Linked DNA regions of Homo sapiens. The protein of the gene in region 1 purifies or fractionates together with the protein of each later gene. This does not show direct contact. Each region holds a gene or a part of one and is shown on either strand. Other genes may lie near its edges.

Region 1 (8,009 bases):
GTGGTTTAAACAGTAAGCATTTATTTCTCACAGTTCTAATGGCTGGGAAGTCCAAAATGAAGGTAACAGAAGACCTGATGTCAAAGACAGCCTGATTTCTGGCTTCTTAATAGCTGCCTTCTCTTGTAGCAGAGAGAGAGAAGAAGCAAGCTCTCTCATTTCTGTCTCTTTTTATCCTTATAATCCCACTGATCTGTCATGAGGGCTCCAATACCATGACCTAATTACCTCACAAATGCTCTATCTCCAAATACCATCACATTGGGAATTGGGGTTTCAATATATGGCTTTTGGGGACGGTAAATGAGAACATCCGATCCACAGCAGTGATCCTTTTAATAGGTTATTTGATCACATACTAACTCTGCACAAAAATCTCCAGTTAGCTCCCCGTTTTCTCCATAATAAAGCCAGTATTCTTAGAATGTCATCCAAAGCCCTCCATGACCTCCATCTCCAATTATTCTATCACTTGGTCTCTCCATTCTAGACTCATTGGCCTCCTTGTTGTTCATGGAACACATGATCTGCTTCCACATTAGGCCTTTGCACTGGCCACTCCCCATATATACATTTAAGTCTCACAAGCTCATATCCTTCAAGGTTTGCTCAGGCCAGTTTCTTAATGGCCCTAACCATCCTATTTAAAACTCAGCCCACCTCATACCTTGCACTCCCAATCTTCCTTATATTTTTCTTTTTTTTCATAGTACATATGACCTACTAATATACTGTATATGTTTATTTTTAATTGTCTGTCTTATCCCTTTAGAATGTAATCTTCACAAGGGTACAGGCCTTTATTTTGCACACAGATGTATTCCCAGTGTCTGGAACAGTGTTTAGCACACAATGGTTATTCAAATTAAATATTTGTAAAATAAATAAAATATCTGAAGTCAACAACTGTTAAGATATCAGTCCATTCTCTTTCAGTTATGAATTTCTAAGTTTATATCTGGCAACTCAGTTTCATATTGGACTAAAATTTGGCAGTATTGCCAAACTGAGATTTGATTTATTTACCCAATTTAAACAAAATATGTTTAGCTATTTGAAGTCCTATAAGCACAATAAAATAAAAAGTCTTTAGATACATGACACTATTTTTATAATTGTATAAATCATTAAGGCCCTGGATGCATTGGGGATATTTAACTCGTCAGGTAGTTTACGGTTTGTTCTGTATGCGATATTAAGTGCAAAAGAAGTTGCTAGTTTCTAAATACATAATGCAATATAATTTTGCTTCTGCTGAAAGGCAAATCAGAAATAATCAGCTCGCTATAGTCGACAAGTAAAAGGAGAAAAAACTTTTAAAAAGTATACAGGCAAATTACTAAAATCTTTTAGAACACAGTCTTTTCTTTTTCTCTTGAGGGACTACTCTATGTCTTTGCAGTAACTTCTGCAGCCTCAAGTATTCAGTGTGGCTTAGAATCACATTATTTTGTTTTGGATTTCTCAACTAGCCTCATGGATAATCTTCCCTCTTCAAACAATTTATTATCCTGAACCAGATCAGACCTGGTTGTGATGCCGACTTAAGGGGTCGTGCCAAAGTAGGGGCCATACACAGTTCCTGGAGGCTGACTCAGTCCAAGAGTGGCTACTGATTACTGTTGAGAAAGAGATTGATGGTCAGTATTTTTTTCCTTAATATTATTTCATTATGAACATTTTTCCTTGTCAATCAATACATTGCTACCAAAGCAATTTTTGTTGTAGCACATCATTCCTGTCATATAGTTTTGTTTTATTTTTATTTTATTTTTTATTTTTGTGGGTACATAGTAAGTGTGCATGTTTATGGGGTACATGAGATGTTTTGATATAGGCATGCAATGTGTAATAATCACATAAGGGTAAGTGTGGTATCCATGCCCTTAAGCATTTACGCTTTGTATAAAAAACAATCCAATTATACTTTTAGTTATTTTTAAATGCACAATTAATTCATTATTGACTATAGTCACCCCATTGTGCTAGCCAATACTAGGTCTTATTTACTCACTCTAATATTTTATACCCTCAGTTGTTAGTATTAAGACTAAATAAATATTAATCATAAGATCCAAAGGGTAGGTGTAAAGTCAGAACTATGCAGTAAGATAAGATCAGGAACCAAGATAAAAGAAAAATGTCTGAAAACTAAGAGCAATGTGTGTAACACAGCAGAGAATAATATTCACCGTAAATAATTCAAGAAGATTTATCCCAGGAAAAGCAAAGTGAGAGCCCACATTCTCAGTGGGTTCCTCTGTTCTTCTGTCAATGGGAAGTAAAGTATGATGAGCAAGAAGCACAAAGTTAATGGGTCCTCCAGCCTCCTGGAGTGGCTCTCTGCAGCTCTTGGGCAAAACAGATGTCTCAATGACTACGTGGGAGAGTGAGGGGAAAACTCAGAGCCTTTCAAGCAACAGAGGTGTGAGAGAGAAGTTATCAATATAATTCTCATTAGTCTGTTTTTGAGAGATACAAGTTGTCAAGCCCATTTGGGATATTAAATGATAAGGGTTCAGTATTACCCTTCTGTGCTGTGCAAAGGAGAATAGTCAAAAGCATATTTACTGTTCTCATGAAATTTGTAGTTTAACTATGAAGACAAGATATCTGTGAAAAGTAAAGATCACTTTCTGATCAACTAAGTTTTCTCACTTTCTAGTTTTTGTCTTTGTATATACCTCCTTTAAGAATACTTTCTCCAAAATTGTTTCCAGTCTCACTGACTGAGGAAATTTTCAGGACTCAATCCCATGTACAAATGTTGAACATTACATAATCAGTTATACTATATCCATTGTACTTGTGACTGATATAAAAACATATTTTTTTCAATAGCTATTTATTGCATGTCTGCAATGTGCCAAGTGCTGTTGTAGATATTAGGAAAAATGAAGTAGACAAAACATTGTCTTTGTCCTTGTGGAACTTACATCTCAGTATTATAAGTGTGCAAACCCTCTCTTCCTACTAGGAGAAAATATTATTTTTAATCATTCCTTCACAGTGAGTTTCTTAAACTTATTTCATCAGAGACTATTGAAAAGCACACACTCTTCCATCCCCCTAGAATGAGAATCCTGGGGGAGGGATTGGGCAGTCTATCTTTTTAAGAAACTCACTGGATGTTTCATGTGCATTCACAGCTTAGGTAACTCTGGGGGAAAGCACTGCCCTATTAAGAACATACTGCCCAAGGAATTGGTAATATCCATTGTACTATATCTGTAGGACCCCTTTTGATTGTCATTACTAGCCTTTATCAAACATCTCATCCTTGGAGAATGTGAAAGCTCTCCACGGTTTTCCACAGACAGTTCACCTAACAAAAAACAACAAGGCAAACTTTTTCAAGAATACCATTATTTTTAAATAAAATGCCTCTACATGGCAGATGTTATTATGTTCTACTTTGGAGATGAAAAGAATCGAACATTATTAGTCATGATCCACAGAACCAGAAGATTTATTTTAAAGATAAAGTTCAGATGATGAACATAAAGGAAGTTATCTCATCAAAGAAGGCAAGACTGAGTAAATCTCAGAAATCCACCATGTACAATATTTAAAAATGCTCACTAAAGTTGTTCTTTGTGAGTTAATGAAGGTCAGTATAGTCAATATTCAGTACGTAATCCTAGCAAGTACAAATAAAGTTAATATTATTCAAATATCTTACACAGGCTTATTGCATGCAACACACTGTTCTAAGTAACATACAGATATTAAAATGACTTAATTCTCAAAACATGAAGTGAGTTTTTGTTTTTATGCCCGTTTTGCAGATGAGAAAACTGAGGCATAGGGAAGGTAAGTAACGCGCTTAAGGTTACATAGCTGGTAAATTGTAGCCAGGAGTTGGAATCTAGGTGCCAAAATCTATGCTGTTAATCACTAAACTACGCTGCCTTAGTTTTTATACTTCTTTAGGAACCTCAGACCAAAAGAAATTTAGGCAATTCTAATAGAACAAGCAAGAATTTGCTAATCACAGCTTCCTTGCCCCAATCCTTTAATCGGCTTCATTTTCACTGACTTCTTTTTTAAATGAAGATAACAATGTTGTTGAACAGGATCATCTAGTGGTTAGTGGTTCGGCATAAGAATGACTCGCTTCTGAAGCTCAGCTCTAGCACTCGCTTGCTGTATGACCTTGAGAAAGTTACCTCCCCAAGTCTGTTTCCTCATCTTTAAAAGAGAGGTTATAATAGGACCCACATCATACTATTGTTTAAAGAGAAAACAACGTAGCCCATTTAAAGCACTTAGAAAGTGCTCCATAAATATTATTAGTGTAATAAATAGCAGCAACATCAATAAAGTATGAACCAAATGATCTCTTGATTCGTATCCTAACACTAAAAATGGTTTATTTCCCTTCTAATTAAAAGAGAATTACAACAACCAAAACAACAAACGAAACTATAGCCATAAAATCAATTATATCGTCTGTGAGAAAACCGGAAAGGCTATTGGACACATTAATTCACTTGTCATCAGTCATCCCCTCTATTCCAAAATGTTTGTGTTCTAACATCCTGAGACACCTTGCATAATATAATCACTGTGACTCCAAGAGGTCAAATGGGCAGGCAGTTAATGCTTCTCTGTGAAAAGCTCAATAATTCATTTTATAAATTTCAGTTTAAAGCCTGCGTTGAGGTTAAGAAAAATTGACGTTCGGTCTGTGAACTTAATGTCAAGCTCCAGAAAAACTCTGGGCAGCACATGTTTAGCAATTAAGTGGACACAGACAATAAAGACGTTGCCAAATTGTAAAACAAGACTTGGAAATCACAGAAAATGTTGCTAGTTATTGATCACGGTGACCATTCAGTTCCTACTGAGCCACCCAAAAGAATCATTCATTTTCCAGCAGAGAGCCTGCTCATTTGCAAGATAAAAGAGAGACATTTCTGCACATGCCCATAATGTTCTTCACCACTGGGGGCAGCTTTACATAAGACTGCATTCACTGAAACCAAAGCAACAGTCCGAGCAGCTTTCAGAATGACAGTCTGCAGAAGTGAGCTGAGCGTGTGCGCGGTACGGGGCTCTCCTGCCTTCTGGGCTCCAACGCAGCTCTGTGGCTGAACTGGGTGCTCATCACGGGAACTGCTGGGGTATGGAATACAGATGTGGCAGCTCAGGTAGCCCCAAATTGCCTGGAAGAATACATCATGTTTTTCGATAAGAAGAAATTGTAGGATCCAGTTTTTTTTTTAACCGCCCCCTCCCCACCCCCCAAAAAACTGTAAAGATGCAAAAACGTAATATCCATGAAGATCCTATTACCTAGGAAGATTTTGATGTTTTGCTGCGAATGCGGTGTTGGGATTTATTTGTTCTTGGAGTGTTCTGCGTGGCTGGCAAAGAATAATGTTCCAAAATCGGTCCATCTCCCAAGGGGTCCAATTTTTCTTCCTGGGTGTCAGCGAGCCCTGACTCACTACAGTGCAGCTGACAGGGGCTGTCATGCAACTGGCCCCTAAGCCAAAGCAAAAGACCTAAGGACGACCTTTGAACAATACAAAGGATGGGTATGTTTTGTCATTTTTCTTCTTTCCTTCTTAAAAACAAAAAACAAAAAACCTCTAGTGTGTGTAATAATTCTGCCTTAATTATTTTAGAGATTACCTTGCTCTGCTCTAAGACTATGAATTTATTTGCTTAGTGGCATGTTTCCTTGTTTAACTATTTAAAAAAACAAAACACTAAAGACAATTCTCTTTAATTACAAAGAGATAATATGTGATGTTAAGTGTTATTTAGATTTAAATTTTTAAAAATGAAAAATATATGCCTATTTTTGCTTGATTAAGGATTAATTCTTTTTTGGGGGGATAACTTTTCTAAGTTGTTTTTATTTCCAGGTTTCAATGTAATTAGGCTACTGAGCGGATCAGCTGTAGCACTGGTTATAGCCCCCACTGTCTTACTGACAATGCTTTCTTCTGCCGAACGAGGATGCCCTAAGGGCTGTAGGTGTGAAGGCAAAATGGTATATTGTGAATCTCAGAAATTACAGGAGATACCCTCAAGTATATCTGCTGGTTGCTTAGGTTTGTCCCTTCGCTATAACAGCCTTCAAAAACTTAAGTATAATCAATTTAAAGGGCTCAACCAGCTCACCTGGCTATACCTTGACCATAACCATATCAGCAATATTGACGAAAATGCTTTTAATGGAATACGCAGACTCAAAGAGCTGATTCTTAGTTCCAATAGAATCTCCTATTTTCTTAACAATACCTTCAGACCTGTGACAAATTTACGGAACTTGGATCTGTCCTATAATCAGCTGCATTCTCTGGGATCTGAACAGTTTCGGGGCTTGCGGAAGCTGCTGAGTTTACATTTACGGTCTAACTCCCTGAGAACCATCCCTGTGCGAATATTCCAAGACTGCCGCAACCTGGAACTTTTGGACCTGGGATATAACCGGATCCGAAGTTTAGCCAGGAATGTCTTTGCTGGCATGATCAGACTCAAAGAACTTCACCTGGAGCACAATCAATTTTCCAAGCTCAACCTGGCCCTTTTTCCAAGGTTGGTCAGCCTTCAGAACCTTTACTTGCAGTGGAATAAAATCAGTGTCATAGGACAGACCATGTCCTGGACCTGGAGCTCCTTACAAAGGCTTGATTTATCAGGCAATGAGATCGAAGCTTTCAGTGGACCCAGTGTTTTCCAGTGTGTCCCGAATCTGCAGCGCCTCAACCTGGATTCCAACAAGCTCACATTTATTGGTCAAGAGATTTTGGATTCTTGGATATCCCTCAATGACATCAGTCTTGCTGGGAATATATGGGAATGCAGCAGAAATATTTGCTCCCTTGTAAACTGGCTGAAAAGTTTTAAAGGTCTAAGGGAGAATACAATTATCTGTGCCAGTCCCAAAGAGCTGCAAGGAGTAAATGTGATCGATGCAGTGAAGAACTACAGCATCTGTGGCAAAAGTACTACAGAGAGGTTTGATCTGGCCAGGGCTCTCCCAAAGCCGACGTTTAAGCCCAAGCTCCCCAGGCCGAAGCATGAGAGCAAACCCCCTTTGCCCCCGACGGTGGGAGCCACAGAGCCCGGCCCAGAGACCGATGCTGACGCCGAGCACATCTCTTTCCATAAAATCATCGCGGGCAGCGTGGCGCTTTTCCTGTCCGTGCTCGTCATCCTGCTGGTTATCTACGTGTCATGGAAGCGGTACCCTGCGAGCATGAAGCAGCTGCAGCAGCGCTCCCTCATGCGAAGGCACAGGAAAAAGAAAAGACAGTCCCTAAAGCAAATGACTCCCAGCACCCAGGAATTTTATGTAGATTATAAACCCACCAACACGGAGACCAGCGAGATGCTGCTGAATGGGACGGGACCCTGCACCTATAACAAATCGGGCTCCAGGGAGTGTGAGGTATGAACCATTGTGATAAAAAGAGCTCTTAAAAGCTGGGAAATAAGTGGTGCTTTATTGAACTCTGGTGACTATCAAGGGAACGCGATGCCCCCCCTCCCCTTCCCTCTCCCTCTCACTTTGCTGGCAAGATCCTTCCTTGTCCGTTTTAGTGCATTCATAATACTGGTCATTTTCCTCTCATACATAATCAACCCATTGAAATTTAAATACCACAATCAATGTGAAGCTTGAACTCCGGTTTAATATAATACCTATTGTATAAGACCCTTTACTGATTCCATTAATGTCGCATTTGTTTTAAGATAAAACTTCTTTCATAAGTAATCCCCCACATTCGCTGTTAGCCTCCTGGTGGGACCAAATCTACAGTTATAGAAGGTTTGCACCTCACTGGCAAATCAAGGAAAGAGGTGAATGATTCCAGGTGCTCGGAGCTTGAGCTGATTCTTGGAGATGACTCAGTTATGGGAACATTTTACAGACAGGCAGAGCCTTTAAACCAATGCCTGACTTAGAAAAGAAAATTGCAGGAAACTATCAAAAGATGGTGCTAGGTTAAAGCAGCACCCTGAGCAGTTTCCAGAGGTGTCTGAATTAC
Region 2 (7,770 bases), on another chromosome or scaffold:
CACCACCATGCCAGGCTAATTTTTTTGTATTTTTTCGTAGAAACGGGGTTTCGCCATTTTGCTCAGGCTGGTCTCGAACCCTGGGCTCAAATCGTCCGCCTGCCCTAGCCTCCCAAAGTGCTGGGATTACAGGTGTGAGCCACTGAGCCCAGCCTCTTTCTCCAAGTTTAACTTTATTTTGTATCCAACCTATTTTCTTCTCATCTATATTGTTCTTCATGTTCATGTACTAGTTATTTTTGTTTGTTTGTTTGGGTGAAGTATTGTAATTACAGAAATGAGACTTTTTTTTTTTAAATGAAAGGCCTCACATATTTATTACTGAACCCAGCCAACCAATGCGTTCATAACAGATTCGGAGAGGAAAACACGTCGAACTCTCCAGATAGGGGTGACATTTTCAGCTTGATATGGTAACGTGATCGTGACCTTCAGACAGCATAAATATGTGTGCCATCTCATGTACAATTCCTTATAGACCCAGCTTGGTTCTTCTCCAATGTCTCCTTTTGGAGTTGTACCTGATTTTATTTCCAGTTTTCATCCGAATCCACTGGGGAATGGGACGATTTTGCTTTTGTTTCTTGGGCAGGAATCACTTAATCCTGAAAGTCTTGTGAGAAGACATGGTGAGGGTGGAGTCAAGAACACACCACGATGGCAGAGAAAGGAAAAGAGGCATGAGATCATTTTATACCCATCATGCAACCACAAGCTTTTCTCAACTGATAATACTAGGACATTAGTTATAGACCCATTTTTTTTTTTTTTGAGACGGAGTCTCACTCTGTCGCCCAGGTTGGAGTGCAGTGGCGTAATCTTGGCTCACTGCAGCCTCTGCCTCCTGGGTTCAAGCAATTGTCCTGTCTCAGCGTTCCTGAGTAGCTGGGATTACAGGTGTGCGCTACCACGCCTGGCTGATTTTTATATTTTTAGTAGTAGAGACAGGGTTTCACCATGTTGACCAGCCTGGTCTCAAATTCCTGACCTCAGGTGATCTGCCTGCTTCAGCCTCCCAAAGTGCTGGGATTACAGGTGTGAGCCACTGCGCCAAGCTCCAACATTCTTTTTTTGTAATTTTTTTTTTTTTTGAGATCAGCCTGTCAGGTTGGAGTGCAGTGGTGCAATCTCAGCTCACTGCAACCTTGGCCTCCCAAGTTCAAGTGATTCTCCTGCCTCAACCTCCCAAGTAGGTGGGATTACAGGCATGCATCACCACGCCCAGCTAATTTTTGTATTCTTAGTAGAGGCAGAGTTTTGCCACGTTGGCCAGGCTGGTCTTGAACTCCTGACCTCAGATATTCTGCCTGCCTTGGTCTCCCAGAGTGCTGGGATTACAGGCGTGAGCCACCGTGCCTGGCTTCCTTTTAATGCATGCATAATGTTCTATTGTATGGTATGTTGGGGAGAAAAAAAGAGTTTTCCTCTACCCTTCCGAGGTTTTGGTTGTGATAGACCCCTGTAACAAAAGACAGATTAACAAGAAGAAAACAAACAGGACCAGGCATGGTGGCTCATGCCTGTAATCCCAACACTTTGGGAGCCCAGGAGTTCCAGACCAGCCTGGGCAATATGGCAAAAAACCATCTCTACAAAAAATGTAAAAATTAGCTGGGCATGGTAGTGGATGCCTGTGGTCCCAGGTACTCTACTCTGGTGGCTGAGGTGGGTGGATCGCTTGAGCCCAGGAGCGAGAGGTTGCAGTGAGCCGTGATAGTGCCATTGCACTTCAGCCTGGGTGACAGAGCGAAGCCATCTCAAAATAAATAAAAGAAAGAAAGAAAAAAAGAAAAACAGAAATTTAAAAACATGTACGTCACGTATTCAAAAGAGAGACCAGGGAAATGAGCAAATCTCCAAGAGGTAGCTTTGAATTCAGGATTATACAGCATCTTCAAAAAAGAACAGTATATGTTTAGAGAAGTGTTAAGAGAACCGGGCACAGTGACTCACGCCTGTAATTCCAGCACTTTGGGAGGCCGAGGTGGGCGGATCACCTGAGGTCGGGAGTTCGAGACCAGCCTAACCAACACGGAGAAACCCCATCTCTACTAAAAATACAAAATTAGCTGGGTGTGGTGGCGCTTCCCTATAATCCCAGCTACTCAGGAGGCTGAGGCAGGAGAATTGCTTGAACCCGAGAGGCGGACGTTGCCGTGAGACTGCGCCATTGCACTCCAGCCTGGGCAACAAGAGCGAAACTTCGTCTCAAAAAAAAAAAAAAAAAGAAAGAAAGAAAAAAAAAGAGAAGTGTTAAGAGAAGGAAAATGATTTTGAGTCTCTAGGGGTGGCAAATTATGGGAAGGCAAATACGCGATAGAAAAAGGCTCATTAATGAAGTTTGTCATGTAGATTCCTGGCTGATAAAGGTTTGTCAAAAGACAAAATTACAACTAATTTAGTTTAAAGAGCATAATTGGCTTTTAGTTGCGATTGTAGAATTGTGCAACACCTCATTTTATAAAATCGAATGAGTGTTCCTATGAGTTGAGTGGAGGAGGTTGGCTTTCAGAAAGGGCTGAAGAAAGCAGAAACAGAAAAGTGCATTGGTTGTTTCGAGGTTACTTTCCTTGAAAAGTTTAAAGCAGAGGGTATTTCCTTATCATGTCACTTCAAACTGGTCTGTCGGGAATTTGGCTATTATTTTTCTTTCTCCTGATTTCTTAGAAAGTCAGATCGACAACTTAGTTTTGACCTTGTGATGTGGAACATGAGTGACTTGAGTGACTCCATTTTGGTTTAGTCTGTTGGGCCTAGTCTAGTGCAGGAGCTCAGTCCAAACCAATGGCTTCCTATGAATTTTATTTAACAGGCGTAAAATTGTCTTTAGTGATTAACCTTTGTCCTTCCAGGCAGTGTGGGAAGAGGGATACCTTTGCCTTTTAAAATTTATGTCCTGCTTTACTTCAGACATTACACTAAATAGGAGTGTTGAGTATAAAAATGAATTCACAATTAAAGTTGTTAAATTATTTGTATATAACTTTAAAAGGAGTTTTTTTGAAGCTTTGTAATTACATTGAAAGTATATTTGTTTCCTTGAAAACAATTTTTTGAAAAGTGAATAATAATATAATACAGCTTTCAAATTACTTTATGCTGTTACTTTATTTCTATTGTATTCACATGTGAAAGTATGTGATCAGTTGTTGCTGTATCAGAGATATTAGAGATTCTTTATTAGTTGGGCATTCTTTATGACCTTTTCTATAAAAGAGTAAGGACATTAAAATGTAAGATGCATGATAAAAATATAAGTAGCGAGGCTCATTGTAGTTAGCCTAAATTAAGTAATGTTTAAGGTAGGTGTTCATGGCCAGGCGCGGTGGCTCACACCTGTAATCCCAGCACTTTGTGAGGCCGAGGCGGGTGGATCATGAGGTCAGGAGATCGAGACCATCCTGGCTGACACACTGAAACCTCGTCTCTACTAAAAATACACAAAATTAGCCAGGCACGGTGGCGGGTGCCTGTAGTCCCAGCTACAGGCTGAGGCAGAAGAATTGCTTGAACCCGGGACGTAGAGTTTGCAGTGAGCTGAGATCGCACCACTGCACTCCAGACTGGGCAACAGAGCGAGACTCCGTCTCAAAAAAAAAAAAAAAAAGTAAGTGTTCAGAGTAATACTTTTCTACATTATACTGAGAGAAATTATAAATTATAAAGTATATCAAATTATATTATTTTACTAATTTTACTTTTATGTAATAAAATGCAATATATTTAAAAATTGTTAAAAAAATAAAATTTATGTCCTGCTTTTAGGCAAATGGGGAAGGCGGAGAACTTTCCACCCACGTATCTACATCGTATCTACATCTTCTCAATTGTCTTCGGCTTGAAATAATCCTTAGGCTAAAGAGGCGTATTTTGGGGTGGCACATTCTGGTGTCCTTACAGGTACACTACTTTTATTCATGTCTGTTACTACTATTACACCCCCTTCACCTTGGGCCACCCCATCCTCAGTCTCCCTCATTTTTCTTTACAGTTAGCACCATTTACCCATTCACGGAGAACCTTACAGTTCTCGCAACAGGGTGATCACTCAGTAAGTACTGTTGTCCCTTTGGTCTGTTTCTGGCAGCGATTAGCTGTGCGCATTCTTTGAGAGGAGCGACGGAGGGAACAGAAGAGGGTACTAGTGAAGAACTAAGGTGCTTCACCCAAATAGATAGGGAAGGAGGAGGAGAGCTGAGGCGAGCCTCAGCTTCTGCCTTTTTTTTTTTTTTTTTTTTTTTGAGACGGAGTCTGGCTCTGTCTCCCAGGCTGGAGTGCAGTGGCGCAATCTCGGCTCACTGCAAGCTCCGCCTCCCGGGTTCACGCCATTCTCCTGCCTCAGCCTCCCGAGTAGCTGGGACTACAGGCGCCCGCCACTATGCCGAGCTAAATTTTTGTATTTTTAGTAGAGACGGGGTTTCACCGTGTTAGCCAGGATGGTCTCGATCTCCTGACCTCATGATCCACCCACCTCGGCCTCCCAAAGTGCTGGGATTACAGGCTTGAGCCACCGCGCCCGGCCAGCTTCTGCCTTCGATGTCTTCTGAAGGAGGGTGGGCTTCGAGGCGGCAGGATGTGCTTAGGGCACTGAGTGGCCCAGAGTGGGGAGCTCCTGCAGGGTTGAGAGGACCGGCGGGGCGAGGTCGGGGCGGGGCTCGCAGGACCTGGGCGGGGCTCGCAGGGGCTGGGCGGCCTGGGGGCGGGGCTGGGCGGAGCGCGCAGCCGCGCAGCGGTGGGAGGACTGCGGGGCTCTTGAGGCCAGCTGCAGAGCTTGTGGAGGCCATGGGGCGCGTCGTCGCGGAGCTCGTCTCCTCGCTGCTGGGGTTGTGGCTGTTGCTGTGCAGCTGCGGATGCCCCGAGGGCGCCGAGCTGCGTGCTCCGCCAGATAAAATCGGTAGGCGAGAAGGGGGCGGCGCGGGAAGGTGCTGGAGCGCGCCCCGCGCCGGGCGGCCGCTGCGCAGTGCGCCCAGATCCCACAGCCGCGACGCAGTCCAGCGGTGCAGGCCGAGCCAGCTGCGCAGGTCGCGCTTTCCCCCATTCACACTTCAGGGCGGCTTTCAGCTCTGGTCGGAATAGGACTGTGCATTCCCAGGCGTGGAGAGGTGCCCACTTGAGGAATGGGCGTGGACGGGGACAGGGGCGGGCGGGCAGGCAGGCGCCTAGCGTACCTGTAGCCCCTGTCTCTTAGGTGTGGGGCTCCGGGGAGGCCTAGGTTTCTCTATCTTCCCGTTGAACACTGACCGTGAAGACTCCAGTGTTCTGGCTTGACCTGGGGCGCCCGGCCAGATTAACAGGCTCACGCAGGCACAGCACAGGGAGGAGTGCAAACAAGTTGACCCTGCCTGCTTCCCTTGGGAGGCTGAACCGCCTTCCCCCAGCTCCGCTTTGCTGAGGTCGGCCTGCTCTCAGAGGCCCTTGGCTTGCACAGTTTCTCCGCCTAGGACTAACACAGCTGCAGAAAGAATCTGTTCTCTTTCCACTGTCAAGAGCTCCAGTGTCAGGAGCCTTGGCTCTTTGCTTCCTGTCTCCCTCCCGCCCCCCTTTAAAGTTGTGTTCTTCGGTATCATTAACCTATCTACATTGAATCTAGACACAACAAAGCTAGGCATAAATGGCCGTCACTTTATTAAAAATGCGTGCTGGAAAGGTCCACCTCTAATGTGCCCGTGAGTTGGGCATCTGGAAGGGTGTGCAGGCCCCTTGGTTCCTCCATAAAGACCTGTGAGAATCTTTGGGCATCTGGAAAAAAAATCGAGTTAATGTCAATATGTTAATTAATCTACTGCTTTTGTCTGGGAACAGTGTCTGTCCAGATTCAGGGAGTTAGACCTTCGCTGCAGGTGTCACTCTTCCCCCACCAAATTGTTGGTAATAGCTTTGAGTAACAACCTCTGCTATTGATGGTCTTTCAAAAACAAAACAACTCACAGAGCTGGTAAAAGGGGAAAATATAATCTTCTGTTTTTTTCCCTCATAGCGATTATTGGAGCCGGAATTGGTGGCACTTCAGCAGCCTATTACCTGCGGCAGAAATTTGGGAAAGATGTGAAGATAGACCTGTTTGAAAGAGAAGAGGTCGGGGGCCGCCTGGCTACCATGATGGTGCAGGGGCAAGAATACGAGGCAGGAGGTTCTGTCATCCATCCTTTAAATCTGCACATGAAACGTTTTGTCAAAGACCTGGGTATGTAATTTTGGTCTTGGAGCTCACCAGATTACTGTGTGACATCCCCGGATATTTTTATCAGATGGAGAACTGAAATTTCTGCCTTGTTAATTGCCTTACAGAGACGTTGGTAAAACTGTTTTCCTCACTTTCTTGTTAGTTGGTACTGCCTGAGTTAGGAGCAGTTCTGCTGTAATGGGACACTAGTTGTCTGTATCTTCAGTTATCTGGAATTACAGCCATGGGGTGGGGGTGGGAATGGCTGCCATTGTCTTTTTTTTTCTTTTGAGGAGTTTCGCTCTTGTCGCTCAGGCTGGAGTGCAATGGTGCGATCTTGGCTCACTGCAACCTCTGCCTCCCGGGTTCAAGCGATTCTCCTGCCTTAGCCTCCTGAGTAGCTGGGATTACAGGTGCCTGCCACCACGCCCAGCTAATTTTTGTATTTTCAGTAGTGACGGGGTTTCACCATGTTGGCCAGCTGGTCTTGAACTCCTGACCTCAGGTGATCCGCCTGCCTTGGCCTTCCAAAGTGCTGGGATTACAGGGGTGAGCCACCGTGCCCGGCCTCTGTTGTCTGTTCTTAAAATTCTGGGTTTGTGTTAAAGAATCAGAGAAGGTTTGGAGATAGTCATCTCATTGTGATCATTTTGCAGCTGAGTAAATGAGACCCAGAGACTTGAATTGTCTGGCTCAAAGTCACTCACATATGGCCATGGCCAGGGTCAGTGGCTCATGCCTGTAATCCCAGCACTTTGGGAGGCCGAGGCAGAGGATCACTTGAGCCCAGGAGTTAGAAACCAGTCTGGGCAACATAGTGAGATCCTGTCTTTACTAAAAATAAAAAAGTTAGCCTGGTGTGATGGCACAAACCTGTAGTCCCAGCTTCTTGGGAGGCAGAGGCAGGAGGATCCCTTGAGCCTGGGAGATAGAAGCTGCAGTGAGCCTTGCATGCCACTGCACTCCAGCCTGGGCAACAAAGTGAGACCCTATCAAAACAAACCACCACCAACAAAACAAACTCCGTCACACAGCTGTGGATGCAGACACGTGCCTAGAACTTGGGATGTGCAACTGCTGCCCTGACAGCAGAGGAGCTGGATAGGTCATGGGGAAAGTCTGACAGGCCTCTGGAGGCCCTTTCGGCAGGGAGTATTTTGTAACTTTGGCCTCCTTCCAGTTATCTGAAATATCCAGTTTTGCAAAATAGGATTCTCACAGGAATGGAAGTGCCTCAGCTGCCTTCCACATCCTCTGTAGATGCTGCCTCTGCTTCCGTTTCCTCCACGAGGGCGAAGGTATACCCAGAACAAATTATGCCACGAAGATGCATGTCTGACATCTTTGTTTTTAAATTGAATTCAGTTGGTACTCTGGCTTTTTTCCTTTGACTATCCAGTTTTTTTAGACTTTTAGTCTAAAAATAGCCAGGTAAAAATATATCTACTTTTGATATATTAATATTTACATGATCATCTGACCCATCGCCTAGCAAATCTGCTTTTGGACAGTGTAGTGAAAGTATAGTGTTTCACACTGTTCCAAAGATAGAGCTCCTTTATGTGTCTCCTGAGAACTGAGGGAAGCCCCAAATTCACTCAGATTAC
Region 3 (7,021 bases), on another chromosome or scaffold:
ACTTAGCCAAATAATGAAATGGAAGAACTCTGCCAAACTCAGCATCATAATTTCCCTTAATAAAACTCTACTGTGTCATTTAGTTTGGTCTCTTTTTAAAACTTGAGCCTCCATCAGCCTATTTTAGGGGAGGGTACTACAAGGTCTGTTGCATAAATGATTTGACTTGCAATTGAACTAAGAATACAATGAACCACTTCCTAGAGTTATTTTTTAAAAGAATGAGAAAGGACTTCTTTGAAAAAAGAAGTGTTTTCTGAATATAACTATTTTGGGTCTAAAATTTTTGCTCATTTCCTAAAGTCCTGTACCACATTGGAATTGCTTTGTATTTTGTAGAACAGGTTTTGTATTCTAATATAGAAATTCTTAACTTGCCTTGTTACCTAAATTCAAATGCATTCCAGAATAATCCCTGGCACATAGTAGGTGCTCAGTAACTATTTGTTGACCCCTTAGCTTTCTACGTTTCTTCTTACGAGGGCATTGTCTCCTCTTAAGCATAATATTCAACAAATGCCACGTGCTATTCAGTGATTTTTCATTTCATAGCCACTTGCATAACTTTTACCTCTTTAAAATCTAGCCATTTTGCAGTCTCATCAATGTGGAACCCAACTAAAACTAAAGTAGGAAATAACCAGTGCCTAAGATTACAGTTTCCTGTCATCTGGCAGGGAAACGTGATACATCTGGGAAATCTTTTCATCACAAATGCTTGATAAGGTATAGTACTGGAATCCGATGTTGTGAGGTGACTGTCAGCAAGTTGCTTAATCTCTTTGGCTTTGGCTTGGTTTTTCTTATCTATCAAATGTGAGAGCAACACTCAGTGATCTCTCTGGTCCCTTCCAACTCTAAGACTTCTGTGATCCTATGCTTCTCAGGCCACCTCCCCCCTCCAGTCCTGTTTGCTCCTTTACAAAAGGAGAGGGGGACATGTAGGGAAGTCTTAACAATCTGTGACTTTAAAGGAATGAACTTTCAGCTGTCCAGCAAATCTGGCTATCCAGAAAAGGCCATTCCTCCAGGGTATATTGGTTAGCCAAAATTTTACTGTACATTAATACATAGTTAGGACTAATTTAGTGCCTAGGAAAACATTTGGGAATGGTTAAAACTGTGGAAAAATCTTAATTCTTGGTAGGGCAGTGTATACAATTACCATTTTATTGTTACACGTATTCCCCCCTTTTAGGCTAGAGCCTTGTTTGGGATGAGGGGAATGGATGTGCACATGCATCACGTAGGAGCCTGACTGTTTTTTTTCTCCTGACACCACTAATCCCCTGTTCCTGTTCCTAAGGGCACTGCTGATAAGTGATATCCAAAGTAACACTCCAGAGCAGGTGAAGTGCATTGCCGGGCTGCCCTGCATCCCAGCATCTCTTCCCTGTGGTGGTATCTGCCTCCAAAAGTCTGTGTTAGCAGAACTGGTGGGTACTTACACAGAAGAATGCACTAATCCTCTGATACTGACTCCAAAAGAGGAGGGTGGGGCAGAGAGAAAGAGGAGACAGGAACTTTTAATTAGCTGCTAGAATGCTATACCTAGCCCCAATCCTTTCTAAGCATTGAGGAAAACAAGTGACCGGATGGAATCAGCTCTTCTACACCCCAAATAATTTCACTTTATAAAACTAGATGAAATGAAGTCCCATTTCTCTGGAGAGGACAGCCAGCCCAATCTGACTTGGGTAATGTTTCTGTCTTTCTTCCTTTCCTTCCTCACAAACTTCCAGTCATAGCCCCATGTGTCCTGCCATATGGTGTCCCTGTTTGTTTGTTTCTCCTTTCTTCCTTTCTTTCTTTTTCTTTCTTCCTTTCCTTTCCTTTCCTTCTTCCTTTCTTCCTTTCTTTCTTTCTTTTGAGACAGAGTCTCACTCTGTCACACAGGCTGGAGTGTAGTGGTGAGATCTCGGCTCGCTGCAACCTCCGTCTCCCAGGTTCAAGCAATTCTTCTGCCTCAGCCTCCTGAGTAGCTGGGACTACAGGCACACACCACCATGCCCGGCTAATTTTTGTATTTTTAGTAGAAACGGGGTTTCACCATGCTGGCAAGGCTGGTCTCGAACTCCTGACCTTGTGATCCGCCCACTTCGGCCTCCCAAAATGCTGAGATTACAGGCGTGAGCCACCGTGCCTGGCAACTGGTATCCCAGTTTCTGCCTGATGTTTAAGCCCCTCTAAATTCTGGCCACACGCATACTCCTGTGCACCTGACCTTATTTCCCGCAATTCCCCAACCCCATTCTGAGATGCAGTGACATGTCCTGTACTCTCCTACAGGTTTTGTTCATTTCATTGAACTTAACTCAGGATGCTCTCCCTTTGTTTGACCACTTAAGTCCAGCCCCTTTCTCGAAAATTTAACCAAAGCCCCACCTCTTTCATCAAGTGTTCTGTGAACACTCTGTGCTTTAGTACTCCCAAGCCTTGGAAAACCTTCACACACCCCCTAAGTTTAAGATTACTCATATTCTGCCTTGTAGAATATATTAACTTTGCCTTCTGCACAGCTCTTGGCACAGAACAGAAGACACCGTAGGTACCCTTCTAAACCTTAATTTGGGGTTAGGGTTCAAAGGACAGCCTTGTAGTCAATGTAATGCAGAAGAAGATGTGCTTCTGTTCCAGTCTGGCAAAGACAAACACTGATGGTTGAGGCTATTAGCAGGACGTGCATGGTGGGCACATGAAGATAGTCTCCTCCACTGCATCTCATGGCTCACCCTGCATAGTTATTTGTAAAAGGATTTTGAGATAATTGAGCAATTTATGTGTGTGTGAGAGAGAGACTCCAGGAGGGAAGGGGGTGGGGGAGGAATGGGTGTTTACAGGGTGGGAGTTGGTGCACCTTGTTTGTTTTGGGTCATCTCCCTCCTCTCCCCTGTCCCAACATGTATCTTTTATCTAATCTATGTCTTCAGGAGGCAGTCCAGGCTTACTAATTGTGATCAATCACAACTCATTCTTAAGTTCATGGCCAAGCCTTCAGTGTCAATGTGATAGAAGCAATTTCTGTCTCTATTTTAGCCCCGCCACTACTGTCTTTTTTTCTTTTCACACATTAGGTAAACCCCACAGCCCAGTGTACCCATGCCCTGTTGAAGATGATCTACTGCTCCCACTGCCGGGGTCTCGTGACTGTGAAGCCATGTTACAACTACTGCTCAAACATCATGAGAGGCTGTTTGGCCAACCAAGGGGATCTCGATTTTGAATGGAACAATTTCATAGGTGAGCAAGTGGTTAACATATTTGTGTTGCTGGAGATAGCTTAGCTTCCAGTCACAAGGAATGTTGTAATTGGCAGCTATGAAATTTGTTTGTTTAAGTGTTTGCTATTTAGTGTTTGTCAGAATCCTGACTACGCTCAACTACTTTGAGAATAGTAAAAACATTACTGCAAGTGAATGTTCCCTCAAACTAATGGTGGCATTTCTGAAGGTAATAGATACAGTGGCTGCCAGGTTTTAATAATGAGAAAATGCCTTTTTCTTGGAGACAGAGTCTCTTTCTGTCACCTAGGCTGGAGTATAGCAGCACAATCATAGCTCTGTGTAACCTGAAACTCCTGGGTTCAAGCGATCCTCTCACCCTCAGCCCCCCAAAAGCCCTGGGATTATAGGCATGAGCCACTCACTGAGAAAGTGTCTTTTTGATATTTCCCGCCTGAAAGTCAGTTGTGTTTATGATTATAGGCTTGTATCCATGTAAATGCTGGAGTACAGTCCTCATGGAGTTGTAAAAGTGGCTTTTAAAATGTTATATCTATTACACTGCAACTAAATCTTCTGCAAACCGGCCAGATACGCATTTGTTATTTGGATCAGGTGAAATCTGATTGAGAAATTCAGGGATTCTGTTTCTGTACACCATTTAGCAGTAGTAGTCTGCTCTGGTGAGAGTGGAAGGACTTTAGCCCTGAGAATTTAAGGGATACATATTCCTGCATATATATTCCACCTAGAAAACCATTCTCAGAACCCAGACAGCAATGTAAATGAAGTGGCCAATTGCAGAGAGGGTTAGTTATGATTTTGGGGAAAGGACAAATTAAGGAGAATTTAAATGTCCAGTTGTCAATTACCTTGATGCCTGAAGCAACAGTAACCAGTGTTGAAGTTCCTTATGCTGAGTATTAGTAGGACCGCACACACATACTAACAGCTCACAAAAAGAAACTCACATTTTTCCCCACCCTAGTCACCTTTGCATAATTGCCGAATTTGAGTGTCTTTATAAGCACCTGTTTTTCACTTATTTGTCCAAATCATGGGAACATGTATGCAGTATTCTGGCTTGGTTTTTTGGGGGGAGGTGAGGGGTGTTAATGTTGGGGAATGCTTTTTAGTCTGTGTGAGAGCTAATTACCATATTAACTCCGTTTGAAAGTGCATCAATAAATTGGCTCCAACAGATTCTTAAGAACACTGACACAGGGGGATAAAAAAAGATGTGAATATTAAGCACTTCAGCACAATTGTAGCCTAAATAGCTCAAAGCTAGAAGACCTGAAAAAATCTTCTACACACAGAAAAGCAGAATCTCATGAAAGGGAAGGCATAAGACCAGCAAAGACATACAGGCCAAATGGCACATCATGCCCAGAATGAAGCCATGGGAGAAATTGTTGATTCAAAATATTTCTCATGGAAGTAAAAACCCATAGAATTTCCAGATCTAAAGTCGCTGTTTTTGTTTTCTCTCTCTCTCTTTAATCCCACACTCATCCCCACACCCAAATGTCAAGTTTGCAGTTCACTTTTGCAAAATTGAATTTTTAAAGAAAGTTGGTGATCCTTTTCAATTGCCCCTATAATTCACTGTTTCTCCAGGCAAGGTAGTAGAATTTGCCATATGGTACAAAAAAGTGTATGGTGACAGTGATCGAATTCTGCTGACTTTTCTACAGACACATTGGGAATGGAATGCAGAAGGGCATGGCCCTTGCCACTATTTTGATACTCTAACATGTCTAGCAGCAACTATAACTAAACTCATATCCTTATATTAAAATACAAATGCTCCTACGTGTTTTTCCTGGAGTTTACAGGTCCATATCAAATCAAAACCACACTCTGGCTTTCTTTATTGATGTTTTAAATCAGTTACTCGAAAACAAAGAGGACTTAAGTTGCTGTTGTTGTTCTTGTTGGGCATTTTTAAAATTACATTTGTTATCTTTGAAGAAACAAACCCAAGTAGAAGTTGATAGGATTTCTGAATCGATTTTTCCCTAGTTATTTTAAGTGATAACTTTTTGGAGGGATGAGGTATATAATTGTATCTAAACTTTGTTTTTAATGGGTATACTATTCTTTATTTCTAATAAGCAGATATAAAAGACCAGGAGTAATAGACATTGTTAATCTCCAGTGCTTTTTCATGAATTTTTCACAAGGGTTTAATTAATCTGCTTTGTGGTTGTAGAATTCAGTCCCAATTTACATGCCTCTGCTGTAAATTCTTTTTTTATTTCTTGTCTCTCTCTCTTTTTTTTTTTTTCTGTTTGCAAGGAATTTTTCTTTCCCCTTTAAATGACTGCAGCTAATGAATGGTCAAGGGCTTTTTCCCCCTTCTTTAAATCAGATCTTGGGGTTAAGTCGGGAAACTGCCTTTTGTTCTTCCAGTCAGGTCGGGAGGCTGAAGATGTGGGTTTCTGATTATTGGCAGCACAATGCAAAAGGAATCGCTTTCCCTAGTGAGAAGGGGATGCTTTGTTGCTGGGGGTATGGGGGGAAACTCAGTGCCAGTGTCTTGAGCACTGAAATAATGCAGTTGGACTAGACCCTTTAAGAGACTAAGGATGAACTGGTTTTCCAAATCCGTCTTCTTGTTGCCATGCTCTTCCTCTCCTCTCTTAACTGCATCTGCAACTGGCCATGAATTGAGACCCTTTAGTAAATGTTGAAGTCTTGTCAGCCTTTTATCAGGATGGATCCAAATAGTTAAAACACCTTAGAACTTGGTTTTATAAGACGCTGGTTTATATGAAACCTTCACTTGGAAATATAAACCAAATACCTCCCTTGCCCCCACCAACAAAAGTCAGTTTCTGGAGAATCATAAATTATGCTATGCAACTTGTTCTCCATCACATACTGTAGCTGTGTTAACACTCATTTGACTCAGGGCCAACCCTATTAATGTCGCATGTTGCTGCCAGTGGGAATTTAGTATTGGGATTGCTGGCGGGGACACCAGCCAGGTCCTGGCAGGAGGCAGGAGCCAGTCAGATATCCCGCAAACAAGGGCCTCCGTGGCTCGTATCAGCCAGAAGAAAACCCAAACTCCAAACCAATCATCTTTGGCTTTCTCTTGAGGCTTCTTATCAGGGCTGGCTGCTGTTACAGAAGAGCCAATTGATAGCCAATCATGACTTCCTCCAGGGGTTAGAGGCAGCTTTGGCTCCCGGGCTGCAGAGTGCAGGCAGAATGCTCTTCAGTTGCATTCTTCAGCTGCGCAACACACAACACCATGGCACCGGCCCCAACAAAGGCCCAGCTTCCCCCTCCATTCCCAGGCTCTTGTGTATAGCCGGCTGGCTCAGAGTTTACAAAGACGCCAAACAGCCAGAAGAATTGGGGTTTATGTTTCCTTTCAGTCTTTCACAAACACATTAGTGATCTGGCCATTCCTTGCCACTAGGGGAATAAGGAGTTACAAAATGCACTGGGTTTTGTTGTTGTTGTTGTTGTTGTTATTTAAACGTCTGCATTTTAGATGTTTATTTTCTGTCTATTCATAATATTTTTATTGGGAGCAGGTGATTTCTTCTCAGCTTACGAAGGAATGTGCTTTCTGTACGTGGCAGCCCTGATGATTTGACAATGATGAACACATTTAAGTTGTGCTCCACTTGTTTACAAAAGTCTCCTTTTGCTAGCACATCAAAAGCATTTTTTTTCTCTCCTGTAGTACAATGGTATATTCATGCTTTCAGCCCTTACTTAGAGTTAGAAGCATCACTTGATTGGCGCTTACCACAATGCATTCTGAAACTTCATTTGTTATT
Region 4 (7,021 bases), 3.9 Mb from region 1:
AGAATTGTAATCACAATTTCACATTCTTTAACAGGTATTGAAAATTTAAATTAAAATTCTGATATTTTTGAATGGCATAAAATGCCCTATCTTATCTGAAAATTGAAAAATTAATACAGAAATGTAAATGGATTGTGAATAGGTGGGATCTGGCCAAGTGTGCATTTGTCTAGGCAGTGCTGAGTTTCTGCTCATTATTTAGTAGCTTTCATTCTTCACCTGAGCCAAAATTAGGCTTAGCCAATAAAGCCAAATTTTCCTTCTGGAAGACATGGCAGTGTCTGCCTTGCAGCATGCATCCAAGACCTTATCTGTTTCTGTATCAAACATTGTCAAGATCAGGGCATGAAGAGCCGGGGCATTCCTGACTCCCCCAACAGATGGCATCTCTTCTTTATTATAGGTGACTTCTGGGGGAACAGAAAGCATACTGATGGCCTGCAAAGCATATCGGGATCTGGCCTTTGAGAAGGGGATCAAAACTCCAGAAATGTATGTATGTGTGGCTGTTTTGTCCCCTTTTGGATTTGTCTGTCTGGAGTACAGCTTTATGAAACTAAAGCAGATAATCCATTTTCCTGCTGCTTCTCTTCCTCTGGTAATTCTGGTCCCCTTTCCCCCTGTCCTAGCCCCTCTGCCCTTATCCTTTTACATTCAGTAAAATTCTAAATGGATCAGCCAGTTATTTTTAAAGATCATTCCCATCCCGCCCCACCCCCAGATCATGCATAGTATATACTACAAGCAAAAATAAGATCCTTTTTCCAAAAGTGAGAGTTTGAGGACTACATCTTTGAATCCTGTGATATTTGCAAATTATTTGGAGCCTAAAGAAACCTCTCTAGGTACTTTAGTTCTGCTTACCTTAGAAAGTTACTTAATATTATAGGCTGCCTCAGGGTACTCTCTGGGAAAACTTTAGTGTGAGGGCTGTTTTCTGGGAGGAAGAATAAAAATATCTTTTTGAGATTTACCCACATTGCCTTCCTTGGACATAAATTTGATGTTTAGTTACATTATTTTTTCCTAGACTGTCCCCTTGTACAGTATGTTTATCCTACATCTTAATATTTTTACTGCAAGTATTACTTGACAATGGGGATTTATTGCATATGGTCTCATGCTGTGGTTCATATGTAGCATAAGAGAATAAACCAGGCTGCCATTCTTTCTTCATATGTCGATCTTTGGTGCTTGGTACTTCCTCAGTAGTAGAGATTTTTCTCCTTAGAGGGAACAGATTCGTTGTATGAATGGAGTAGTTGAGGAAAGTCTAAAGCAAATACCCGTGACCTCATTTTCTCTTTCAACACTATTTGAAATACTATTTCCAAATGTGTAGGAGAAATGGGGATTTTAGTTTCTTCAGGTTTGTTGTCTTTCAGAGTTGGAAGGGGCCACTGAGCTGATGCTTGGCCGCTGTGTGAACATTTCTGCTTGAACATGTGTTGTGCCGGGAAGCCTTCTTCTCATTCTCACTGAGGTGCCTGTCTTTGGTAGGCAACCGTTAGCCAGCTCTGCCTTGTGTTGCTCTCATCCAAAGTCTCTGTCCCCCAGCTTTCCGCCTGCCAGCCTAGCTTTATGCTTTGGATCCCTCACTGTGGGATCACTTCTGAGTCCTCTTCCTATTGCCAGAATGATTTCCTAAATAGGAGGGAAGTTTCTGCAGAAAATCAGTTGGCCTCTTTTTGGGTGTGCTTAAAAAGAAAAGTAGAGCAGTCTAAACACTTAAATTTTTAATTTGGGGAAAAATAATCAGAACTTACTCCCGGTAATTTAGATTAGCTGCTAATGGTGTTTTCTATTATTTTGGCCTGAGTTACATTATTCTCCTCTTCCCTGTCATTTAGTGTGGCTCCCCAAAGTGCCCATGCTGCATTTAACAAAGCAGCCAGTTACTTTGGGATGAAGATTGTGCGGGTCCCATTGACGAAGATGATGGAGGTGGATGTGCGGGTGAGTCCCTCTGGAGGGCCCACTGTCTGTGCTGGGCCCTGACAGCAGAAGGGCCCTCCTGTTGACTAGCCGTTTCCAGTCAGATGGGTCTGACTGCCTTTGATTGTGGCAGCCAGAATATGAAAAACTGCATTGATAGTGGTGATTGACTGCAGCTTCAGTCTTTTCATAGGTTCATGAATTCTGAAAGGGAGGTGATCTAGTCACTAACTTGGGACTTGAGAGACACTGGTTTTGCGGTCAGCGCCATCACTTTTTCTTTCTTTTCTCTATTTGTAAAATGAACATGGACTCACTTCCCCTAAGACTCTTACCATGGCCCGGGCATGGTGGCTCACATCTGTAATCCCAGCACTTTGGGAAGCCGAGGAGGGAGGATTACTTGAACCCTTGAGCCCAGGAGTTTGCGACCAGTCTGAGCAACATAGTGAGACCCCATCTCTACACAAAATTTAAAAAAGTAGCTGGACATGGTGGCATGCACCTGTAGTCCTAGCTACTCGGGAGGCTGGGGTGGGAGGATCACTTGAGCCCCAGGAGGTTGATGCTGCAGTGAGCTGTGTTCACACCACTGTACTCCAGCTTGGGTGACAGAGCAAGACCCTGTCTCAAAAAAAAAAAAAAGACTCTCACTGTGGTTTAGATTGGCTTAAATTAATACCATTGTCATTATGATAGTGATTATTTTTATGCCTCACATTTGTGTAGAGGAGTTTTCTAGTTTCAGTGTTCTGTCAGAATCCCATTTGAGCTTTATGACATTCCAGAGAGGTTGATGAAGCTGTTATATTATTGTAGTTCACAGATAAGGAACAGACTGAAGTAGCATACTCAGGGTTTCACTGCTGGTACGTTGTGGGGCTGGGGCTCACATTTGGCTCTTTGGCCTCTTAGCTCAATATTATTTTCGCCCCCACAGCGATTCTGTTCTTATTTTGTGCTCTCAGACTATTCTCCAAATGGACTTACCTGGAGTCACCTGTGTCCTGTCACCGTGGTGGGATGCAGTCTTCTCCCAGTTGGAGTGGTGAAGGAGGGGGTACTGGTGGAACTGGAACTCTAAGCTAGCAGCCCAAATTGCTCTTGGCAGCAGAAGAGAAGAGTAATTGTGACATAGATTCTCATTTTCCTTTAAACTTTAAATCCCTAGGCAATGAGAAGAGCTATCTCCAGGAACACTGCCATGCTCGTCTGTTCTACCCCACAGTTTCCTCATGGTGTAATAGATCCTGTCCCTGAAGTGGCCAAGGTATATGAGAGAAATGGGCTGCTAAGGCAGGCAAATGGATATTTTAAAACAAAGCCTAATGGGGCAGTACTTGGCAAATAGAAGCGATTTTTTTTTTGTTTTTGACCACAGTAGTGATAAGTAGCTCTCATCAGCCCTAGGGGAAGCCCTGCAGCTCAGTTGCAAGCCTTTAAAAGTTGCTAGTCTCTGCTGTGGGGGAAGATAGTACAAGGCTGAGGCCTTTTAAACTGGAAATTCTGAAATAGGATTGCCTTCTAGATTGAGATCTGGAAATAATCTGCATGTAGGAATGTGCCCACCAAAAGGGTGATATTCCACATGCTGCCCCTCAGCGCCTCCCTTTCCCTCACGCCTCATCCTGCAGTGACTGAGGCAGGACCTTTCCCTTGTGCGAGAGGCAGCCTAAATCAGAGCTCTACTCATTTCCTGCTTGATACCGCAGAGCGTTTGAGGTCATGCATATTTAAATATAAAATTGATACCATATTTCAGATGAATTATTTTGAAGGGAAAATACATTTGAAAGATAAATTTTGTTGGGAATGTTAAAAATAGCCATTTTTTAAAAACATGGGAGGCATAATACAAAATAGCCTTGTGTTTATAGCCCATCTTTCCACCCATGTCTTGCAGTTTTTATTATAGGGCTATAAAGGAAATTCTCTTATGTTCTTTGTTTTTTGGAACAAGCTGGCTGTCAAATACAAAATACCCCTTCATGTCGACGCTTGTCTGGGAGGCTTCCTCATCGTCTTTATGGAGAAAGCAGGATACCCACTGGAGCACCCATTTGATTTCCGGGTGAAAGGTGTAACCAGCATTTCAGCTGACACCCATAAGGTGAGCTAAGGAGGAGATCAAGTGTTACCAGTTGATTATTTTGACTATTATTGATAAAATAAATTGGTAGCTTCCCCGCAAAGTATAAAATTAACTATAGAATTCTCATCAGATGCTTGTTTTAAACTCTCTCTTTGCCGTCACCAGATCAGCTGGTTCAGGTGATGGGGTATAGTGGTAGAGGTGACAAGCAGTAGTGAAAATGAACCTGTTACCTTTATCTCAAATTGGCTAAGAGAATTTCTGTATCCACTGACTGTGTGTAACTAGAACATGCTAGTGTAGTGGCCCTTGTTAAAAAAGCTCCCTGAAGCCTTGAGCTGATTTGAGGTGGAGGGTAGAGGAGTGTGAGGGTTGGTAGTGGAGTTCCCATGCTGGTAGATAACATTAGAGCTGCTGTGCAACTGGGCTCCTGAGCGTACATGACGGGAAAATGTTGACGGAAGAGTCCTTTGGAAAATGGGAAGAACCTGTGTGCTCAGGAACATTCAGCATTTGAGATGGCCACGCCTGCCACCCTTGGTGGACTGAGACAAAGTCTAGATCAGTTGATAACGCTATTGAATATACATCCAGATGTGGAAGAAGTATTAGCAGCCTCAGGAATGTGTACCTTGTTTTGATTGCATTTTCAGAGCTTGTTTTAAACTCAAGTATATTAAAGACTTGTTTTTCAAAATCGGTGTGATCTGCAGCCGATTTTCAGTCAGCATCTGTTTTTTCCTTACCATCCAGATAGCTCCTGTGTCCTTTTCCCATAACCATCCATTTCTGGATGGTTCAGGTAATGAAATTAGTTCCACGTTAGTTTTAATAAGAGTTAATTAGGGGGTCAGATGTTCTATAAGGAAACCAGTTACATAGTTAATTTTAAAGCTGGATTAAGTAGCTTTTAGTTTCTGAGCACCATTATGTTCTCATAAGCATAATATTCTTAGTAATACTAAGCAAAAAAAGATGGGAAGGGGGTCAGATGGTGATTTTAACTTGAAGTGACAAATTCCATCCTTTCCTGGCTTCCATTGCAAACTTACCCTTGCTTTCATCCTGACATATGGTCTCCAGAGAAATATTTTAAATAAGGTAAACCACATGCTGGGCAAGAGAGGGAGTAAACCGATTAACTGGGCGCTGTTCTTCCCTGGGTCTCAGATTCCTCATTCCTAACAGAGAGAATTTAAACTCCATCCCTTAAGTTCCTACTATCCTTTAGCATTTTAAGTTTGAATCCTTAATGTGAGTGGGAAACATAACAGAGAAACTGAGAAATAAATAGGATTTCCTTTGCATGATGAGAGTTCTGGGACAAGGTCTGCCAGACAGAACTATACTCTCACTTTTCTTGTCTGCTACTTCTTCCACAGTATGGCTATGCCCCAAAAGGCTCATCATTGGTGTTGTATAGTGACAAGAAGTACAGGAACTATCAGTTCTTCGTCGATACAGATTGGCAGGGTGGCATCTATGCTTCCCCAACCATCGCAGGCTCACGGCCTGGTGGCATTAGCGCAGCCTGTTGGGCTGCCTTGATGCACTTCGGTGAGAACGGCTATGTTGAAGCTACCAAACAGATCATCAAAACTGCTCGCTTCCTCAAGTCAGAGTATGTGTGGAAGACTGGGGTTCTGCCTTGTCTATTGCTTTTTTGTCCTAGTAGGCTCAAGGCACCTGCCTGGCTAAGTATCCATAGCCCTAGCCCACCTGTTGTCTCCTGCGATATAGAGGGCTTAGGGCAGCAGCTTAGGGCTTAGGCCAGACCAGCTGGCCTGGGAGAAGAAGCTCCCTTTCTCTGCCCTGACTTTTGGAGGGTCTTTGAGACGGGGGCCTCATTTGTAGTTTATCTCATCTCTATGGATGTCTTAATAACTGGCAGCTCTTACCCTAAGGCTAATGTACAATTTAATGGTTAGGACAGTGATTCCCAAACTTGAGCATGCATTCTAATCACCTGAAGGACTTGTTAAAACACAGGTAGCTGGGCCCACCCCTAGAGTTTCTGATTCAGTGGAACTGGGATGGGCTCTAAAAATTTCCATTTCTGGAGATACTGATGCTACTGCTCCAGGAATCATACTTGAAGAATCATTGGAATAAGAAAATAATTGGAAATGGGCCAGAAGGAATGAGGAAAGGAGGGCAATGAAATCTTGGGTTAAGCCAAGGCCAGAACAGGCTGCATGCTTTGTCTAATGTATCTGTTAACATCTTATCTGCCCATCTCTCTATGTGTCACTTGGATTGGGGAGGCTCTTTAAGTATATTGAGGGGGAAGGAAAGCTGCCTGCAGGCATTTCTCATTTGAGAAAGATCCTTGGCCAGGCACGGTGGCTCCGGCCTGTAATCCCAGCACTTTGGGAGGCCAAGGCAAAAGGATCGCTTCAGCTCAGGAATTAAAGACCAACCGGAGCAACATAGTGAGACATTATCTCTACAACAAATTTAAAAATTAGCCATGAGGCCGGGCGCGGTGACTCATCCCTGTAATCCCAGCACTTTGGGAGGCTGAGGCGGGTGGATCACCTGAGGTCCAGAGTTCAAGACCAGCCTGACCAACAGGGAGAACCCCGTCTCTACTAAAAATACAAAATTAGCCGGGCGTGGTGGCGCATGCCTGTAATCCCAGCTACTCAGGAGGCTGAGGCAGGAGAATTGCTTGAACCCGGGAGGCAGAGGTTGCGGTGAGTTGAGATGGCACCATTGCACTCAAGCCTGGGCAACAAGAACGAAACTCCATCTCAAAAATAAAAAATAAATAAAAATAAAAATTAGCCACATGTGGTGGTGTGCACCTTTGGTCCCAGCTACACAGGAGGCTTAAGGCAAGAGGACTGCTTGAACAGCCCAGGAATTTGAGGTTACAGTGAGCTATGATCACACCACTGCACTCTAGCCTGGGTGACAGAGCAAGACCCTGTCTCAAATAAATAAGCAAACAAATAAATAAAAATTAGATATATATAAAAGGTCCTCCTATAG

Evidence for each region.
Region 2: the proteins of LRRTM3 (region 1) and PCYOX1 purify together in Homo sapiens (co-immunoprecipitation; 2 studies listed by BioGRID and IntAct, with this or other methods). This does not show direct contact.
Region 3: the proteins of LRRTM3 (region 1) and GPC4 purify together in Homo sapiens (co-immunoprecipitation; 2 studies listed by BioGRID and IntAct, with this or other methods). This does not show direct contact.
Region 4: the proteins of LRRTM3 (region 1) and SGPL1 purify together in Homo sapiens (co-immunoprecipitation; 2 studies listed by BioGRID and IntAct, with this or other methods). This does not show direct contact.

The regions. Positions count from the first base shown.
Region 1 is NC_000010.11:66,921,045-66,929,053, forward strand, and holds the start of LRRTM3 (leucine-rich repeat transmembrane neuronal protein 3 precursor), read left to right. Parts: upstream 1-4,991; 5' UTR 4,992-5,539; coding exon 5,540-5,543; intron 5,544-5,876; coding exon 5,877-7,408; intron 7,409-8,009. UniProt on the Homo sapiens protein: Exhibits a limited synaptogenic activity in vitro, restricted to excitatory presynaptic differentiation. May play a role in the development and maintenance of the vertebrate nervous system.
Region 2 is NC_000002.12:70,253,383-70,261,152, forward strand, and holds the start of PCYOX1 (prenylcysteine oxidase 1 precursor), read left to right. Parts: upstream 1-4,754; 5' UTR 4,755-4,782; coding exon 4,783-4,894; intron 4,895-5,977; coding exon 5,978-6,184; intron 6,185-7,770. UniProt on the Homo sapiens protein: Prenylcysteine oxidase that cleaves the thioether bond of prenyl-L-cysteines, such as farnesylcysteine and geranylgeranylcysteine. Only active against free prenylcysteines and not prenylcysteine residues within prenylated proteins or peptides.
Region 3 is NC_000023.11:133,307,477-133,314,497, reverse strand, and holds part of GPC4 (glypican-4 precursor), read left to right. Parts: intron 1-3,074; coding exon 3,075-3,240; intron 3,241-7,021. UniProt on the Homo sapiens protein: Cell surface proteoglycan that bears heparan sulfate. May be involved in the development of kidney tubules and of the central nervous system.
Region 4 is NC_000010.11:70,867,942-70,874,962, forward strand, and holds part of SGPL1 (sphingosine-1-phosphate lyase 1), read left to right. Parts: intron 1-403; coding exon 404-492; intron 493-1,850; coding exon 1,851-1,956; intron 1,957-3,106; coding exon 3,107-3,205; intron 3,206-3,895; coding exon 3,896-4,045; intron 4,046-5,409; coding exon 5,410-5,648; intron 5,649-7,021. UniProt on the Homo sapiens protein: Cleaves phosphorylated sphingoid bases (PSBs), such as sphingosine-1-phosphate, into fatty aldehydes and phosphoethanolamine. Elevates stress-induced ceramide production and apoptosis.